Homo sapiens: one gene and its partners. The protein of the gene in region 2 purifies or fractionates together with the protein of the main gene of each other region. This does not show direct contact. Each region holds a gene or a part of one and is shown on either strand. Other genes may lie near its edges.

Region 1 (2,551 bases), on a different chromosome or scaffold from region 2:
AAAAACTTTCTTCTTTAAGGTAACACAAATATCTTTGTGAGAGAAATTTAATAATAATTTGTAACTGCATTATTTATTACAACATATATTGCCTTAACCTCCAATATGTGTCCTTTTAAATACTCTGTCATCAAAATTTAATCATAATTCAACAGTTTGATAACAGTAATGGTCAAAATTCAACCGTTTAACCAAGTTAACACGTTCTCTCTATACTTAAATCTAGAAAGGAGTTCCAAATCTTTTTTCCCAAAGCTGATAACATAATTTTCTCTTTTAAATTATCAGGATTCTCAGTACTGGCGTTTTACCAATGATATAAAAGATGCAGGGTACCCCAAACCAATTTTCAAAGGATTTGGAGGACTAACTGGACAAATAGTGGCAGCGCTTTCAACAGCTAAATATAAGAACTGGCCTGAATCTGTGTATTTTTTCAAGAGAGGTATGTGTTACATAATTGACAAGATTACAAAACTTTTAAAGAATTACACTCAGCATTTTCATTTATTATTGACTTTACTGTCAAAAGATATCTTTAATGGCTGAAATCAAATATTTTCAGTGAAAAAAATCAATATTGAGGGTAGTATTCTTATTGCCCTCAATTTTTATTTTCATTTCTTCACAGGCAAGTCACAATTCATTTGAGTTTTCAGGTCACTGATAGAATGTCATTTACTTTCGCTTCACAAATGTGCATGTCATCCTTGCACAAGGGCCATGCTAATCTCTGTATCATTCCAGTTTTAGTATATGTGCTGCCAAACTGAGCACTTGTCACTTTCAATTGAAATTAAATATATAACTATGTAATTTGCTGCATCTATTCATTCAACAAGTATTTCAGTTTAATAATTATTTTTATAATACCCTTGACTAATAGCCATTATTAATATCAATATATTATATGAAAAATGAGAACAAAACTGTTTCCTATACATTGTAAAAGTTGTTTTCCACCTTTTCTGAGGGTATTAAAATTAATTTTCATTTTCCATGTGATATTCTAATACATAACAGGTGGCAGCATTCAGCAGTATATTTATAAACAGGAACCTGTACAGAAGTGCCCTGGAAGAAGGCCTGCTCTAAATTATCCAGTGTATGGAGAAACGACACAGGTTAGGAGACGTCGCTTTGAACGTGCTATAGGACCTTCTCAAACACACACCATCAGAATTCAATATTCACCTGCCAGACTGGCTTATCAAGACAAAGGTAACATTTTTATTGTGTTAAAAAAATCCTTAAACATAAGTAGATGTAATACAGTTTCTTATACAGTAAGGCTTATGAAATATGGATACTGATCAAACAGCCCTAATAATTTAAGCTTACTGATGAAAAACTCATCCACTTGCCTTAGTGAATAACCAAAGACCAATACTTTCTTTTTCCTTGTGGGTAAGTAAAGCAGTTTGTTCAGGTTTGTTAGTTATAACCAATACTATTTATCAAGTACTTCTTACCAAGAACATTATATACCAGTCTATAACCCTCAATAGTTCTACATCAGAGGGCTAAAACTGAGATTAAAACTCAGATGTCTGGCTCTTTCCAAGATAGTACATTGCCTTTTAATCTGGTATCTTTTATTAAACATGCCACTTACAGGTGTCCTTCATAATGAAGTTAAAGTGAGTATACTGTGGAGAGGACTTCCAAATGTGGTTACCTCAGCTATATCACTGCCCAACATCAGAAAACCTGACGGCTATGATTACTATGCCTTTTCTAAAGGTAAGGTATTAACTAACAGTTTCCCAAGGAGGTGATATCATTTGTGAAAACATGAAGATAAAGTAAAAATGCTGGCTGCAATGATGACTGAATGTGAGAAGTTACACTACGGTACTTATTCTAATTGCTGTGGAAAAGAGTTAAGACTTTTGCTTTAATTTCAATTAAAATGATGGCACTGCAATTCAATTCTGCTCTAACCTTCATGAGATTACGATAAAACATCCAGTTACTAGAGTAAACTTGCTACTGACAATAGTATTTTACTTCTATCATTTGTGGCATTTAACAGATACCTTGTTTGGCACAAGGTTATAATGATTTGCATCACTGCAGAGTCTGTAAGATCAGAAAGAAGTTCCTGAGAAACTAATTTTATTAATTAAATTATATTACTCAGGATGCTTTTCTTTGAAATGCCCAGAAATCTAAGTTATTCTGCCTGTAATTTCATAATATGAATGACATTGGCATGTATTTTTTAAAAGGAATAACCCCAAGTAAATTATTTTTCAAACTTGGTTACTCTTTAATGTTTACTTCATAAAGGAGAGCTGAACCTGATTTTACAAAAAGATGGTGAAATGTCAATCTTTTGAAACATCAAAAAAGCTGAAAAGTCTAGGCAATTGTTTTTCTTTTTGTTATAAAGTTCAAATTAATTAGTAAAAACATCTCTATTAAAATGATAAACATTGTCTTTGAGCATAATAGTCAACATAAGTTATTTTTTAGTTTGGGCATTGTTTTCTTTTTAACTAAAAAAATGTTTTCTCTTCCATTTAGATCAATACTATAACATTGATGT
Region 2 (2,269 bases):
CAGAACCCTCTGCCCCATCAGAACAACTTGCCTCCTGAGTCCCTTATCTGCTCCTTCCTCCAGGAAGCCTTCCCAGACTTTTTGCTGCTGGGTTCCCAGATCCCCCACTGCCCTGTCTGAGCACCCCAGCCCTATGGTTTGACTTCCAGACTTGGAACACCCTGACAGTGGGACATTCCAGAGGGAACCCAAAGAGGTCCCCACAGGTAAGAGCAGAGAAAGGGGAAGAGGAAGCCCCCCAACCCTCTCAAGCTCAGTGGGCACCTCAGTGTGAAGCAGCTCCCGCCTCCGGCCCGGGGGCTCCGCTGTAAAGAGAGGGTGTGTGGTGAGGACAGGGTGGCCAGAGGCCCTGTGGGGGGCATAAATGGGGGCCCTCACCTGCCAGCAACAGCAGTAGCTCCCCCAGGCTGTGCTGGTACAGGTCCAGGGCATCCTGCTCCCCGCCGGCGGCCTCCTCCTGCAGCCACAAGGACACCAGGCTGCTTAGGGTCATGGCCTGGGTATCTCCCTGCCCTGCCCCGACCCACCTGGACCCCTCCCACTGGCACAAACCTTGGCCATGGCAGCTGAAGCCACTTCCAGGGCAGCTAGGAGGCGTGGCTTGTCCCGGGCCATCTCTGAGATGAGGGGAAAGGCTCAGGGTGAGGGAAGCAACCTGCCTGTTCGCTGCAGGATGCCTCTCCCCACCCGCCTCCCCCTCAGGCTGTGGGGAGGTTTGCTGGGGGCCCTGGGGTCAGCCAGAAACCGGAGTCTACCTCTGAGCAGGTCTCGGGCAGAGGTCCCCTGCCTCAGCAGGGCCTGATTGGAAGAGGAGACGATGGCCTTGAGCTCCTCAGCCCGGGACACGTACTGCCCCACCTGTAGCAGGGAAAGGGCCTGAGGAGGGGCTGTCTCACCAGCTACCCTTGCCAGAACCCACCTCCAAGTTCTCCCTTTGCATTGTTAGTGACTGCCTCAAGCTATAAACATGTCAGGGGGCAAATGTGGCTGGCCTGACCCATTCCCAGCTCTGTGTTGCAGGAGAGGAAGTTCCAATTCTAAGAGAGCCATTCCCCAGAGGCCCCCGAGATCTCCGGGCCTTACCCCCTGCCCCCCCACTTCCTCATGGGGACTCTCACCCACCTTTGCCTTAATTGCCTCCTTCCGCTGGGCATCCACTTCATCTGCAGAAAGTGAGGTCATATGAGGAGTCTGGGCGAACCCCTCCCTGCCCCACAACGAACCCTCTGGAATCCCTCAAAACACAATATTCCAGGTTTACGCTCTGCTTTATCGCCTACAAAATTCTAGATAGAGAACTTCTGGAATCCACCTACTGCAGCCACAGATGACTCCCATCCCTGCTGCACCCACGGGCTTCAGGCATGGCCTGGGACTCACAGTGCAGGGCAGGTACAAAGAAGTCCAGAGCCTTGCAGTAGAGTGATAAGGCAGCTGCTGAATCCCCCTCCTGGTCTTTCTTCACAGCCTGCACCACCAGGGCGGTCTGGGGATGGGCAGATCAGGGGTCAGGTCCACCTCCCTACCCTCCCACACTCACCAAGATGGGAGATCAGCTCCCCTGAGCCCGCCCTCTGTCTCTGTTGGGTGAGTCACCAATTCACCACCAACGGGGGCAAGGAGACCTCCAGCCCACCCTCAGCCCACCCCAGCCCCAGCCGTCTGCTCACTGCTCGCCCCAGACTCTCCCCACTGGGCATGTGCTCCAGGTCCACCCAGGGGTGCGCAAAAAAGTCCTGGAAGGAGATGCGACGGCTGGGGTCCCGCTCCAGGAGCCGCTGCAGTAGGTCCCGGCAGTCTCGGGAGAGCAGGGGCCGCAAGGGGAGCTGCAGGGAAGGGAACGGCAGGGACAGATCACACTGGGCTCCTCCACCCCTACCCCTAGCCCAGGGGTCTGCGAGGAACCCCAGAGGTACGCGTTGGACAGGTGGGGAATCTGAGACCGAGGAGGAACAGGATGGGTCAGGATGATGGAGCCAGCGGGGAGCGAGGCCTCCATCCCTGGGCTCCCGGTGCACCCTCGCTGGAGCCCTGAGCTGAGCTAGAATCGTGTTTCTGGGTCCTTATTTCCCTCCCTGGACTATGCTCCTAGGAAGGCTGGGCCTGGCTCTGCTTTGCATTCTCCCCACAAGGGCCTGCAAAATGGGCACTGTGCTGCCAGCTGTGGGCTGACCTGAGGCCCTGGGACAGCCTGGCACCTCGACTTCCAGCCTAGAACCTGCCCCTCCACCACAAAGGCAGCCTGGAGCCCATACTCCAGTCTCTGCAG
Region 3 (3,500 bases), on a different chromosome or scaffold from region 2:
TAGGTGTAGAGTTCTGTGGCATGAAGTACGTTCACAATTGTTGTGCAGCCACCTCCACCATCCACCTTCAGAACTCTTTCATCTTCCCAAATGGACACTCTGTACCCATTAAATAGCAACTCCCTATTTTCTCCTGCTCGGGCCTTGGCCAACACCATCTTTTCATTGTACTCTTTGATGTTTGCCTGTCTCCCAAGAGAACAGGCAGACGCCTAGAGTCTTTGCAGGTAGCAGCTTCCCCCCAGGACTTACTGACACTGCTTTGAGTCATCTGGATGGATGACAAATGCTGTGATATTCTTATTTACACTAGTGTGTAAGGTTTCCTTTTTTGTTTGTTTGTTTTTTTTTTTGAGACAGAGTCTTGCTCTGTCGCCCAGGCTGGAGTGCAGTGGTGCGATCTTGGCTCACTGCAAGCTCCGCCTCCCGGGTTCATGCCATTCTCCTGCCTCAGCCTCCCATGTACCTGGGACTACAGGCGCCTGCCACCACGCCCGGCTAACTTTTTTTTGTATTTTTAGTAGAGATGGGGTTTCACCATGTTAGCCAGGATGGTCTCGATCTCCTGACCTCGTGATCCGCCCGTCTCGGCCTCCCAAAGTGCTGGGATTACAGGTGTGAGCCACCGCGCCCGGCCTCAAGCAATTCTTCTGCCTCATCCTCCTGAGTAGCTGGGGCTACCGGCATGTGCCAACACGCCTGGCTAATTTTAGTATTTTTAGTAGAGACGGGGTTTCACCATATTGGCCAGGCTAGTCTCGAACTCCTGACCTCGTGATCTGCCTGCCTCGGCCTCCCAAAGTGCTGGGATTACAGGCGTGAGCTACTGTGCCTGGCTTTTTTTCTTTTTTTGAGACAGAGTCTTGCTCTGTTGATCAGGTTGGAGTGCAGTGGCCTGATCTCGGCTCACTGCAAGCTCCGCCTCCTGGGTTCACGCCATTCTCCTGCCTCAGCCTCCTAAGTAGCTGGGACTACAGGTGCCCGCCACCATGCCCAGCTAATTTTTTGTATTTTTAGTAGAGACGGGGTTTCACCATGTTAGCCAGGATGGTCTTGCTCTCCTGACCTCATGATCCACCTGCCTCAGCCTCCCTTTTTTTTTTTTAATTGAGATGGAGTCTTGCTGTATTGCCTGGGCTGGAGTACAGTGGCAAGATCTTGGCTCACAGCAACCTCTGCTGCCCAGGTTCAAGCGATTCTCCTGCCTCAGCCTCCTGAGTAGCTGAGATTACAGGCATCCACCACCATGCCCGGCTAATTTTTGTGTTTTTAGTAGAAACGGGATTTCGCCATGTTGGCCAGGCTGGTCTCGAACTCCCGACCTCAGGTGATCAGCCCTCCTCTGCCTCCCAAAGTGCTGGGATTACAGGTGTGAGCCACCACACCTGGCCAAGGTTTCCTTTTAAAGTAATTTTTTAGTAAAGAAGAATCCATTTAATACAATAATAAGAAAAGGGCCGAGCATGGTGGCTCATGCCTATAATCCCAGCACTTTGGGAGGTTGAGGCAGGAGGATCGCTTAAGCTCAGGAGTTTAAGACCAGCCTGGGCAACATAGCGAAACCCTGTCTCTACTAAAAAAAAAAAAAAAAGAAAAGGAAAATAAAGCTGGGTGTGGCACAGGCACCTGTGGTCCCAGCTACTCCTGAGGCTGAGGCAGGAGGATTGCTTAAACCCAGAAGGTCAAGGCTGCAGTGATCCATGATTGTACCACTCTACTCCAGCCTGGGCAACAGAGTGAGAGCCTGTCTATTAAAAAAACTAGGCCGGGTGCAGTGGCTGGCCAGATGCAGTGGCTCATGCCTGTAATCCCAGCACTTTGGGAGGCCGAGGAGGGCGGATCACCTGAGGTCAGGAGTTCGAGCCCAGCCTGGCCAATATGGTGAAACCCCATCTCTACTAAAAATACAAAAAAAATAGCTGGGCGTGGTGCTGGGCGCTTATAATGCCAGCTACCTGGGAGGCTGAGGCAGGAGAATTGCTTGAACCCGGGAGGCGGAGGTGGCAGTGAGCTGAGATTGCATCACTGCACTCCAGCCTGGGTGATAAGAGTGAAACTGTCTCAAATAAATAAATAAGTAAATAAACGAATACAAGTCATACCTGTATGTGACTGGGCTAGGGCAGGTGTCCAACCAAGAGGAGCCTGATGGTGGGGAGGGGCCGTCGGCAGGTGCAGGTGTCTAGGCAACTGCCCTTCCTGGCCACAGCCTGCAGGTCCAGAGGCAGGGGCTTCCAGTGTTGCAGAGGAGATGTGGGGGTGGTGACAGGGGGGATGGACAGAGGGAGCCAAAATGAAAGAACCAATTTTTCTGTTAATCCCTTTGCATACTATGCCCCCACTTAATCCTAAAAATGAACAATAAACAAAACTCCTTTGGTAAGAATGACTGCACTGTACAAATGAGGAGCCTGGGTCCAAGAGCCTCACAGCTGGTTAGTGGCAGAGCTGTGTCCAAAACCAGCCTCAGATCCAGAACCACACTCACTCTCAGATGCCTGGGGAAATGCGCCACCCTTCTCAGATGATTGTTGGTTTACCCAGTTTCCTTCAGCTGGATTTTAAAACTTCAGTAGTACTTTTATTTTTCTGAGACAGATTCTTGCTCTATCACCCAGGCTGCAGTGCAGTGGCACAATTATAGCTCACTATAACCTCAAACTCCTGGGCTCAAGTGATCCTCCCTCCTCAGCCTTTAGAGTAGTTGGGACTATAGATGTGAGCCACCACGCCCAGCTAATTTTTAAAATTTTTATTTATTATTATTATTTTTTAGAGACTCACTATTGCACAGGTTAGTTTCAAACTACTGGCCTCAAGCAATCCTCCTACCTTGGCCTCCCAAAGTGCTGGGACTAAAGGTGCATGCCACCACACCTGGCTAATTTTTTTTTTTTTTTTTTTTGAGACAGAGTCTTGCTCTGTCACCCAGGCTGGAGTGCAGTGGTGCCATTTCAGCTCACTGCCAGCTCCGCCTCCTGGGTTCACACCATTCTCCTGCCTCAGCCTCCCAAGTAGCTGGGACTACAGGCGTCTGCCACCACGCCCGGCTAATTTTTTGTATTTTTTAATGGAGACGGGGTTTCACCATGTTAGCCGGGATGGTCTCGATCTCCTGACCTCGTGATCCACCCGCCTCGGCCTCCCAAAGTGCTGGGATTACAGGTGTGAGCCACCGTGCCCGGCCTTTTTGTTTTTTTTTTTAGAAATGGGGTCTCACTGTTGCTTAGTCTGGTCTCAAACTCCTGGTCTCAAGTGATCCTCCTACCTTGGCCTCCCAAAGTGTTAGGGTTACAGGCATAAGCCACCATGCCTGGCCCAGTGGTGCTTTTAAAAATCAGTATTGGCCAGGCACAGTGGCTCACGCCTGTAATCCCAGCACTTTGGGAGGCCAAGGTGGGCGGATCACCTGAGGTCAGGAGTTTGAGACCAGCCTGACCAATATGGAGAAACCTCATTTCTGCTAAAAATACAAAATTAGCTGGGTATGGTGCTACATG
Region 4 (3,500 bases), on a different chromosome or scaffold from region 2:
GGCAAAGGATATGAACAGACACTTCTCAAAAGAAGACATTTATGCAGCCAACAGACACATGAAAAAATGCTCATCATCACTGGCCATCAGAGAAATGAAATCAAAACCACAAGGAGATACCATGTCACACCAGTTAGAATGGAGATCATCAAAAAGTCAGGAAACAACAGGTGCTGGAGAGGATGTGGAGAAATAGGAACACTTTTACACTGCTGGTGGGACTTTAACTAGTTCAACCATTGTGGAAGACAGTGTGGCGATTCCTCAAGGATCTAGAACCAGAAATACCATTTGACCCAGCCATCCCATTACTGGGGATATACCCAAAGGATTATAAATCATGCTACTATAAAGACACATGCACATGTTATGTTTATTGCGGCACTATTCACAATAGCAAAGACTTGGAACCAACCCAAATGATAGACTGGATTAAGAAAATGTGGCACATATACACCATGGAATACTATGCAGCCATAAAAAAGGATGAGTTCATGTCCTTTGTAGGGACATGGATGAAGCTGGAAACCATCATTCTCAGCAAACTATCGCAAGGACAGAAAACCAAACACTGCATGTTCTCACTCATAGGTGGGAATTGAACAATGAGAACGCTTGGACACAGGAAGGGGAACATCACACATCGGGGCCTGTTGTGGGGTGGGGGGGACGGGGGAGGGATAGCATTAGGAGATACACCTAATGTAAATGACCAGTTAATGGGTGCAGCACATCAACATGGCACATGGATATATATATATATATATATATGTAACCTGCACGTTGTGCACATGTATCCTAGAACTTAAAAGTATTAAAAAAAAGAAAAAAATTGTTTGCCCCTTGTTCTTTCCCTGCAAAACCCCAATCCCGAATTGGTCTAACCACTCATTTTTCTATGGTTAAGCCCAGACTACAGATTGCTGTGGGAAAATAACTTTGAAGAGACTGGTCTCATTTTCAGTTCATGGCATTCATCTTCAAAGGCTCCTCCCCCTGGAGCTCCCAGTCAGGCTCTCTCCTTTCATTTCCACCAATGGCAGTTTCATCTCCTTATTCAAGTGTCTCACACTGCTACTGTCAGCCAAAAAGCCATTATTATGAATTCCTTCAATTTTCTGACAGCACTTTCCCCTCCAGTTGTATCTGGATTCATCAATGGTTCTTAATTTTGCCTCCACAGGACCACCCTTCACCTCTCCTGTAACTTCTCCTTTCCCACCAAATTGCTTTCTCCCCTCCACCCCTACTACCCATTAAAAATACTTTCTCACCTACTCCCATTTACCTACTATTTTCCTTCCAAAGACAGCTGCTTGAAACAGAAGTTACTTTGTTCATTTTCCTCACTATTCATTAATAACTCTTGCTTTTACCACCCTATGTCATCGTCTCCTAATTGCAGACTCCAAAACAGGTCAGTTCCTTCTCACCTGACCTCTCCATGTTATTAATCCCTTTAAAAAATTTACATGAAGGTATTCACAAAAATCCTTCTAATGGACAGAACTAATTTCTCTTTGACTTCCTCTCCACTCCACACTGTCATTTTAATGATGATATAACTGGGTGTCCTGCCTCTCTCATCTCATCCTTTGCTATTGCATTGTTCTTAATGTTTCTAGGATAACTTTTAAAAATAAAAATATGATTGCGTTATGCCCCTGCTAAATCTCAATAATCTACATAGCCTCTGAATTCCTCATTTATTTCAGGAAGAAACTCAAACTCTAACATGGCATATTTAAGATCTGCAAAACTCTAATATTTTCTCCTAACTTCTGTGAGGACTTCTTTCCAATCCTAGTCTTGAGACATGTTGAACTAATACTATTCCTTTCAATTATTGTTTTGGTTAATGTGTTATTGTTCCTCAACTGTATAGAATGGGTGATGCTCCACTAGGAAATTCAGTTAAGAGCTCTTCCAAGATGCTTTTCCAGATTCCCCCAGCCTCAAGTAGGGTGCTTGTTCTGTGGCACTGCAGTACCTTCCATATTCTAACACAGCCCTCGCTTACAATATTTTAATTACTAAAATATTTATCTCTTTCCATCCCACTAGACTGTAAGCTCCTCTTGAAAGCTAAGTAATGGCTTCTCTGGTTCCACCTGTAACATTAAAAAAAATTTTTTTTTGGTAGAGACGGGATCTCACTATGCTGCCCAGGTTGGTCTTGAACTCCTGGCCTCAAGCAGTCCTCCTGCCTCAGCCTATCAAAGTGTTGGGATTACAGGCGTGAGCCACCACATCTAGCTTCTACCTGTAACATTTAGCCCAGTGCCTGAAATGTAGTAGAGAATCAATGAATGGTGAATGAATGAACAAAATAATAATCAATGTCCTTTAAAAAAGCACAGACTATTTCACTTTTGGTACATTCCAAATTGTAATTTTATTTTACCCCAACAGACAAGTTTCTAAAATTTCCATAGAATCCCTATGGAATCATATTCAAGACAAGGCCACTTTATTTCCTGAGAAGTATTAGAAATATTAGAAAGACGCTGCAGAAGTCTGAGTTAAGAACCTAATCTATAACAGCTCATTTATCACACTAAGAAGAGAATAAGACGGTTCATGAGATTCTGCTTCTTTAAACTAACATAAACTAAGGATACATCAATAGAAACAACCTACAGATCAGAAAAAGTTTCCTATGTGGTTTGGAATGTGTCACTTTAATTTTATTCACTCTAACTTTATTCATTTTAATGTTGTTTATAAAATAACTCTATTAGGACAGAGACTTTGACTATTTTAAGTGGTATCCCAGCACCTGTAAGGAGATCTGGCATATAGTAGTTCAATAAATCTTTCTTCAATAAGTGAATGCACGTAAGTATTTAGCTTCAAATTCAGAGATAAGTGAAAGAATTTTTCTAGCAAAAGCAAAATAATCTAAACATTTGTCTAATTACCTTTTTGCAAATCTGTTTCATTGTGACTTCTTCCAAGTTAGCACTGGCCAGTAATTTCTTTATTGTTTCCTTTAACTCTTCATCTGTAGGGGGTTTCTTCAACTTTTTAATTAAAGGTTCATCATCTGAACTATCCTCAGACTCACTTTCTAAAAGTAATATAATAATAATAATTTTTCTTACATAGTAAATTAACATTTAACAAAGGCTGAGATGAATTTTAAGCTTTCAACAGATTCTCAAAGGGGTACTGGATCAAAAAAATTATAAATCACTACTCTACAGTTACCTATAAAACATGCATACAAATTTTAGTCAATTTGAAAAATCAAAAACTATAAAAAACTGGTATACAGGTTAGGCATCCCTAATCCAAAAATCCAAAACCTGAAATGTTCCAAAATCCAGCTTTTCAGAGCACCAACATGACACCACCAGGAGGTAATTCCATACCCGACCTCGTGTGACGGGTCGCAGTCAAAACTTGGTTTCAGGCCAAGGGCAGTGGTCCAAGCCTGTAAACCCAGTGCTCTGGGGGGCCAAGATAGGAGACTCGCTTGAGTCCAGCAGTTCAAGGCT
Region 5 (3,500 bases), on a different chromosome or scaffold from region 2:
TGCTTTTTAGAAGATTACTTAGAAGTTTCTCACTTAAAAATTTATAAACCGATCTGATTGACAATATGGAAAGATATTCTGTCATTTTAATTAATACTTACTACATATTATCTATGGCATCTTAGCAGATCTGTTAAAATCCTAATTTTCTCTAAGACCCAGCATGACTGCCACTGAGATTTACATCAATGTGGATCCTGATTACCCAAATGGGCTGGGACCTCTTCTCTGTATTTCCACAGCACTTTTTGTTTTGTTTTTAACTACATTGAAGGCATTTTTCAAATTCTGCCTCATATGACAGTTATTCTTGTATGATGTACCTTCTCTATTAATTGGTAAGTTCTTCAAAAGGGCAGACGATTCCTTCATTGCTATAACCCACAGCCCATGGCTCAGAGTAAAACGCAACGTATTCATACAAAGCATCCTTAGAACCCAGCTTTTTGTATACTGGAACTGGCCTGTAACCAAAGTTCCCTCTCCTTCTGCCTCACCCTATCAGGAAACACTTTTTCCATATTTGCCCCAAGTTTACTGGAATAAAAAATAAAAGGAGAGGAGAAGAAAGAGGGAGAGAAGAGAAAAAAGAAGGGACCAAGTAGAGATGTGACTGCCCCTCACTGCACTACCCTAGGCCCCCTTTCGTTCCTAGCAGAAGGGAAATCTTCCTAATGTGCTAAAATCATGAAAAACCGATCCTGGGCTTTTGAGTAGGAAATAACCTCTTTTCAGTGTCTTTTATCAATTTCAAGTAAAATTAAACTCTTTAAAATTAGAATGGTAGGAAAACAGGCCATTCTGTTTATCTGACATCAGGTTAAGACATAATTGTATGTATGTCATGGAAATTACCACATTCAAAGAAATGACATGCAGGATTCAAATTGAATGAAATGTAAGATTAACATAATTTCATATTTGTCAATCAGAAAGTCCTTCAAGATTTAAAAATAAATCAAGATTAATTACTATTGTATAATACTATTAAAAAGTGTTTTGAATTTTTTAGCATTGTGGGAGATGGTTGGCTTTTTTTTTTACATTATTTCAATGTGATGCATACATAATAAAGAAAACTATCATCCCCAATTTGCATGTATAGTTTGTGCACTACACGTGGAGATTACCTTACCCTGTTATCCATGTGATTTCACCAGGCTATTAACAATATGTTGATATATATACTTAAAATAACAATTCACAATATACATACAGAAAGCCATATCCATGATGTGATAAAATGTATTCTAAATAACAACAGCAATAACAACAGTAAAAATAAAGTTATTCTGTGCCAGGCACTAAGTGCCTCACCTTATTTAATCTTTATAATATCCAAATGAAACAGGTTAATCATTGCCTCCATTTTATTCACACATTTCAGTAACGTGACCAATAGTCACCAACCAATCAGTGTCAGAGCCAGTATTTGAACCAGGACTATTCCAAAGCCCTTGTTTTGGGACCCTCCACTGTATTTCAGGGCTAGATACTTTAAGTTTTTCTTGTGTACATTCTCAACAGTTCTATTTTATACTGACTGGCTGGGAGCATTCCCTCCAAAAACTTTTGTACCTGATTGTTTTAAATTTCTGGAACCCAGTATTCAGTCATCTTTAATCCTGTTCCTTTTAGATCCTTGTAAAGTTGTCTTCTAGAGCAAAGTTAATGTGACTGGAAATATAAATACACAAATAAATTCTATTAGAGAAAAACAGAAGGAAAAGAATATACTGTCTTGCACATTTAACAATCCATTCTTTATCTGAGAAAAATACAGCTTAAAAATTGTATCTGTGCTATCTACTATTAAAAAGTCAGCAGCAGAGATGCTCTATTATAAAAATACTAAAGTTATAAAATGTAACTTTAGAATATCATACTTTATAAGCTTCAGGAGAGGGTTTCAACAATTTGGACACTGAAACACATGAAAAAATGCACACTAAGGAGAATTTAATCTATAGTATTTCCATATGGAAAATAAAAGAGAATCCATGTGGAAATGTAAAAAAAAGCAAAACTTTCAAACTTTTAGAAGTATAGAAATATATTTATGACCTCAGAGCAGTTAAAGATTTCATACATAAGACAGGAAAGCATAAAACACAAAGAAAAGAGCAGTAAACTTGAACAAAAGGAAAAATATGCCACAGAATGGGGGAAGATATTTGTAACATGCATAATGGACAGCTTGGAAAGGATCCATACACAAAATATATAAAGAATGCCTGCAAATCAGTAAGAATAAAACAAACGACACAATTCAAAAGTGAGCAAAGGATTCATGATATATATATATATATATATATATATATATATATATATATATATATTCAGTTATATATGTATATATAACTGAAATTTCACAAAATAATTCTTACTCCTCCTACATGAGATGCTTGATATCTTTTCCATTTTTCTACTTTATGCTATTTTATTCTACCCTACTCTATCCTATTTTATCTTGTTCAATTTCATTTTAAAAGAAAATGCTGATCTCAGCCCACTAATTTCCAGATCACTAACAAGTCCTGCAATTTTAGCAACACTGCCCTAGATAAACTCTAGAGCATACACACAAATATTCCCAATAGCAAAAAGCAAGAAAGAACAAATTGATCAACAAAACCAATAAACTGTGGCATATGCATACTATATAGCTATTAAAATAAATTATCTAGAATCAAAACAGGTATATCTACAAAACAATGTTCACCAAAATCACTAAGTCACAAAATGATACATATGGTATCATTTGATAACATTTGATATTTGATAACATTTTAAAACATGCAGAAGACAGTACTATTTTAATGTGTTATGGATACCAACATATGCATGGCTAGACTTTGATGGGAATTTTTTCGTGGGGAAGTTTTGGTGGAGGGAATACCAAAGATAAAAGGTCCCATGTAACTCTGTCAATGAATTGGTATGCTACAGCTTTTCCATCTGACAAGATGGTTTTCAAGATTTTAAGCTTAAATTAATCATCTCAGGATGGAGAGATTAAGGTTACCCAATGTTAAAGAAAATAAACTCTTAAAATGAGAATGCTATCATTCTAATTTTGCCTTTACCAAGGACATGGAAATTCAATAAACGTTTGGTAATGAAAACTCATAAACTATAATTTCTTTAGCCATCTGTAAAATAAAATTGAATCAATACCCTAGGAAGGCCAGGCATGGTGGCTCACACCTGTAATCCCAGCACTTTGAGGATCGCTTGAGGCCCCCAAAAGTTTGAGACTAGCCTGGGCAACATAGGAAGACACCGTCTCTACAGAAAACTTAAAAATTAGCTACACGTGGTAGTACACGCCTGTAGTCCCAGCTACTTGGGAGGCTAAGATAGGTGGATCGCTTGAACCCAGGATGTGGAGGCTGCGGTGAACCATGATCACACCACTGCACTCAGCCCGGGTGACAAAGATCTTATCTCAAAAAATAAAAAATAAATAATTTTTTTAATGAGCTATGATCGCACCACTG
Region 6 (3,500 bases), on a different chromosome or scaffold from region 2:
TTGTACCATAGTTTTTCCATATATCACCATTGGGGGAAACTGGATAAAGTACAGACAGGATCTTTCTGCATTATTTATTACAACTGCATGTGAATCTACGATTATCTCAAAATAAAAAGTTTGTTTTCTTAAAAAAGATGGTAGATAGTTCCATCTGAAGTAGCACTTACGGCCAGGCACTGTGGCTCTTGCCTGTAATCTCAGCACTTTGGGACAGTTAGGCAGAAGGCTCACTGGACGCCAGTAGTTTGAGATCACTCTGATCAACATAGTGAGATCCCATCTCTAAGAAAAAGAAGAAAAGAGAAAGAGAGGAAGGAAGGGAGGGAGAAAAAGAGGAAGGAGAGGAAGGGGAGGGAAGGAGAGAAGGAGGGGGAGAGGGATGGGGGAGGGAGAGAGGGGGGAAGGGGGAAAGAAGACAGGGAGGGAGGGAAGGGGAGGGAGAGAGGAAAAGAAAAGAAAAGAAAAGGCAAGGCATTTATACAACAGCTTCCAAACAACACTGTATCTGAAAACTGGTCATTAGGATTCTTGGCATTTGCCTTTAAAAAAAAAAAAAAAAAAAGAAGAAGTCTTATTTTGGGCAGCCAAAAATCATCACTTGGAAGCATACTTTGTCATCAGAGGCACAAAAGGGTATGTTCCTGATTAACAGGACATATTCAATCTACAGTTAGTAGTAAAGTTATCTGTTACGCCCCAAAACCAGTTGTCCATCAAGAATTCTGGGTCCCAAACCAGGCCGAAATAAAATATAGGCACATCCTCCTTTTAAAGGATCCAAGTTAGGAACAGCCAGATTTATTCCCAAAACAATGCACTGGTTTACCAAAACATGTTTTACCTTTCAAAGGACCTCTTTGTGGCATGCTTCCTCAGCACATTTTAAAGGACCCTTTTGATTAAAACTCCACTTAGCTCTTCTTTTTCAGAATCTTATCTGCTTAAGCCATATGGAGCACTCCCCCATGGGACCAAGTAACTCCTCTCAATTTCACAGGGGAAGACACTAAGGCTTAGTTACATGACCTGCTCAGGATCCTGGGTAGTAGCAGTCCTGTCTTCTGACTCCTATGTCACTGCTCTTGTTCAAGTCCATTATTTCTGCTATTCCAACTTTAAACAATTATTCTGGTGGGATTCTCTTCCATTTAGACCTCACATTATACAGAGACTGTTAAACTGAACCCTGCAGGACACAGTCCTCATGAAATCCAGAGATAGAGGCACTTTGGACAGCTGCTTTATAATACTGATGAGGAACACCCAGGTCCATCACGCTGTGAAATGAGAGAGAACAGGTCCTTCAGGCAGGAGCTGGCCACATTCTCTTTCCAGCTCTGTCCCTCACTACACGTTTGTCTTCACCAACTATCTTACCTAACTACGGGTTGGCTTTTTTACCTTGAGTAAAACAGCAGCAACAAGAAAAAATATTTACTTCCTCTTCAATGAAAGGAAGAGTACAATGAGATAAACTTAATTGTTCATGTTCCTCAAAACGGAAGCATAAATTATACATGTGGCTGGACAATTATAATCACCAGCCCGGGACCATCCTTCTTTGGGGTTCAGATTCCTTTCAGTATTTACAACCCCTTTGCAATGGAAGGGGACAGTTTTAAGAGATTCAATGATTTGCCTGAAGTCACAGAGTTTGATCTGTGTCTCATTTGTTTCTAAATCCTTGTGTAGTCTTCTTGGTGTCACATGCTGCTATTCCTAATCATTAGGGATACAGGGAAAAGAAAAGGTTTAATTACTACTGTCAAGTAGGCCAGGGTTTTTCTACATCAGCACTACTGACATTTTGAATGGATAATTCTTTGTTGTGGGAGGCTGTCCTGTAGGATATTTAGCAGCACCCTTGGATTCTAACCACTAGAGGCCAGTAGCATTCCCCTCTGCCAAGCTGTGACAACCAAAAATGTCTCCAAATGCTCCCAAATGTCCCCCACTGAACAAAAGTGCCCCTGGTTGAAAACTACTGTGCTTTACATATAACATAGAAATACGTGGAAACAACCACCTAGGAGAAGAACTTTACAGAAGGCATAATTCTCTTCAAATATCTGAAAAATTTCCATATAGAAGCAGGAACGGATTTGGCATGCCAGGGAGCAGACCTATACCCAGTGGGTTCAAGCTACATAATAATAAAATCAGCTAACATTTATTCTTCCTATGTGCCAGGCACTGTTCAGTACACTTTGAAGTATTATTTCATTTAGTCCTCACAATAACCCTGTGAAGTCAGTAGTACTGGCCCCACTTTACAGGTGAAAAAGTTGAGGCTCAGAAGAGAATAGTTAAAATAATTTGCCCAAGGACCAAGAGCTAATAGCGAAAGGCAGAACTCGTACTCAAACCAAGGTCCAATACTGACCCCAAGCTCTTAATTGCCAAGTATTATGACCATGACAAATTAAGGATTTTACCTCAGTAAAATAAAGAAAATAAAGAACTTTTTGACTTAAAAACTGTTTCTTTCATATGGAGATTTCTCAAAGAACTAAAAATAGAACTACCATATGGCCCAGCAATTCCACTACTGGGTATCTACCCAGAGGAAAAGACATCATTATACAAAAAAGGCACCTGTACTTGTATGTTTATTGCAGCACTATTCACAATACCAAAGTGATGGAACTAACCTAAGTGTCCACCAATGGTTGACTAGATAAAGAAAATGTGGTATATATACACTATGGAATACTACACAGCCATAAAAAAGAATGAAATCAGGCTGGGCATGGTTATTCATGCCTGTAATCCCAGCAATTTGGAAGGCTGAGGCAGGACGACTGCTTGAGTCCAGGAGTTCAAGACCAGCCTCGGCAACATAGACAACACCCCATCTCTACAAAAAAAATTTTAAAAATCAACTAGATGCTGTGGTACACATCTGTAGTTCCAGCTACTCAGGAAGCTAACGTGAGAGGATCACCTGAGCCCAAGAGGTTGAGGCTACAGTGAGCCATGATCACACCACTGCACTCATGACAGAGTGAGACTCTGTCTCAAAAAAAAGAATGAAATAATGTCCTTTGCAACAACATGGAGCTAGAGGCCATTATCCTAAGAGAACTAATTCAGAAACAGAAAATCAAATACTCCATGTTCTTACTTATAAGTGGGAGCTGAACAATGGATACACATGGACTTAAACATGGAAATAACAAACATTGGGGACTGGAAAAGGAGGAAGATTGAGGGAGATTGAAAAATTACCTATTGGGTACGATGTTCACTATTTGGATAATGGGTACACCAGAAGCCCAGTCCCCACCAGTAGGCAATATATCCATGTAACAAACATGCACATGTACCCCCGACTCTAAAATAAAATTTCTTTAAAAAAAGAACTGTTTATTTTGCAAACAATGATTTCCGCAGCCACCATCTCAATCCTATCTGTCCAGATCAGGTCCAGAAAACCTGCCTTCCTTCGTAACTTTCAGGGAAGTGTCTGCTCTGAACTCCACTGAGCCCCTGTACAA

The links.
Region 1: the proteins of ULK3 (region 2) and TPR purify together in Homo sapiens (affinity purification with mass spectrometry; one large-scale study listed by BioGRID and IntAct). This does not show direct contact.
Region 3: the proteins of ULK3 (region 2) and NUP210 purify together in Homo sapiens (affinity purification with mass spectrometry; one large-scale study listed by BioGRID and IntAct). This does not show direct contact.
Region 4: the proteins of ULK3 (region 2) and DEK purify together in Homo sapiens (affinity purification with mass spectrometry; one large-scale study listed by BioGRID and IntAct). This does not show direct contact.
Region 5: the proteins of ULK3 (region 2) and RCBTB2 purify together in Homo sapiens (affinity purification with mass spectrometry; one large-scale study listed by BioGRID and IntAct). This does not show direct contact.
Region 6: the proteins of ULK3 (region 2) and RCL1 purify together in Homo sapiens (affinity purification with mass spectrometry; one large-scale study listed by BioGRID and IntAct). This does not show direct contact.

The regions. Positions count from the first base shown.
Region 1 is NC_000001.11:186,311,152-186,313,702, forward strand, and holds the end of TPR (nucleoprotein TPR), read right to left. Parts: coding exon of another isoform or gene 2,530-2,551; 3' UTR 1,744-2,529; coding exon of another isoform or gene 1,618-1,743; 3' UTR 1,222-1,617; coding exon of another isoform or gene 1,024-1,221; 3' UTR 501-1,023; downstream 1-500. Other genes in the region: PRG4 (proteoglycan 4 isoform A preproprotein), read left to right, coding at 1-19, 289-445, 1,024-1,221, 1,618-1,743, 2,530-2,551.
Region 2 is NC_000015.10:74,837,888-74,840,156, forward strand, and holds part of ULK3 (serine/threonine-protein kinase ULK3), read right to left. Parts: intron 1,827-2,269; coding exon 1,671-1,826; intron 1,487-1,670; coding exon 1,381-1,486; intron 1,164-1,380; coding exon 1,123-1,163; intron 859-1,122; coding exon 756-858; intron 618-755; coding exon 553-617; intron 458-552; coding exon 379-457; intron 306-378; coding exon 265-305; intron 1-264. UniProt on the Homo sapiens protein: Serine/threonine protein kinase that acts as a regulator of Sonic hedgehog (SHH) signaling and autophagy.
Region 3 is NC_000003.12:13,410,323-13,413,822, reverse strand, and holds part of NUP210 (nuclear pore membrane glycoprotein 210 precursor), read left to right. Parts: intron 1-3,500. UniProt on the Homo sapiens protein: Nucleoporin essential for nuclear pore assembly and fusion, nuclear pore spacing, as well as structural integrity.
Region 4 is NC_000006.12:18,233,531-18,237,030, forward strand, and holds part of DEK (protein DEK), read right to left. Parts: intron 3,071-3,500; coding exon 2,922-3,070; intron 1-2,921. UniProt on the Homo sapiens protein: Involved in chromatin organization.
Region 5 is NC_000013.11:48,523,081-48,526,580, forward strand, and holds part of RCBTB2 (RCC1 and BTB domain-containing protein 2), read right to left. Parts: intron 1,678-3,500; 5' UTR 1,579-1,677; intron 1-1,578.
Region 6 is NC_000009.12:4,795,944-4,799,443, reverse strand, and holds part of RCL1 (RNA 3'-terminal phosphate cyclase-like protein), read right to left. Parts: intron 1-3,500. UniProt on the Homo sapiens protein: As part of the small subunit (SSU) processome, it plays a role in 40S-ribosomal-subunit biogenesis in the early pre-rRNA processing steps at sites A0, A1 and A2 that are required for proper maturation of the 18S RNA.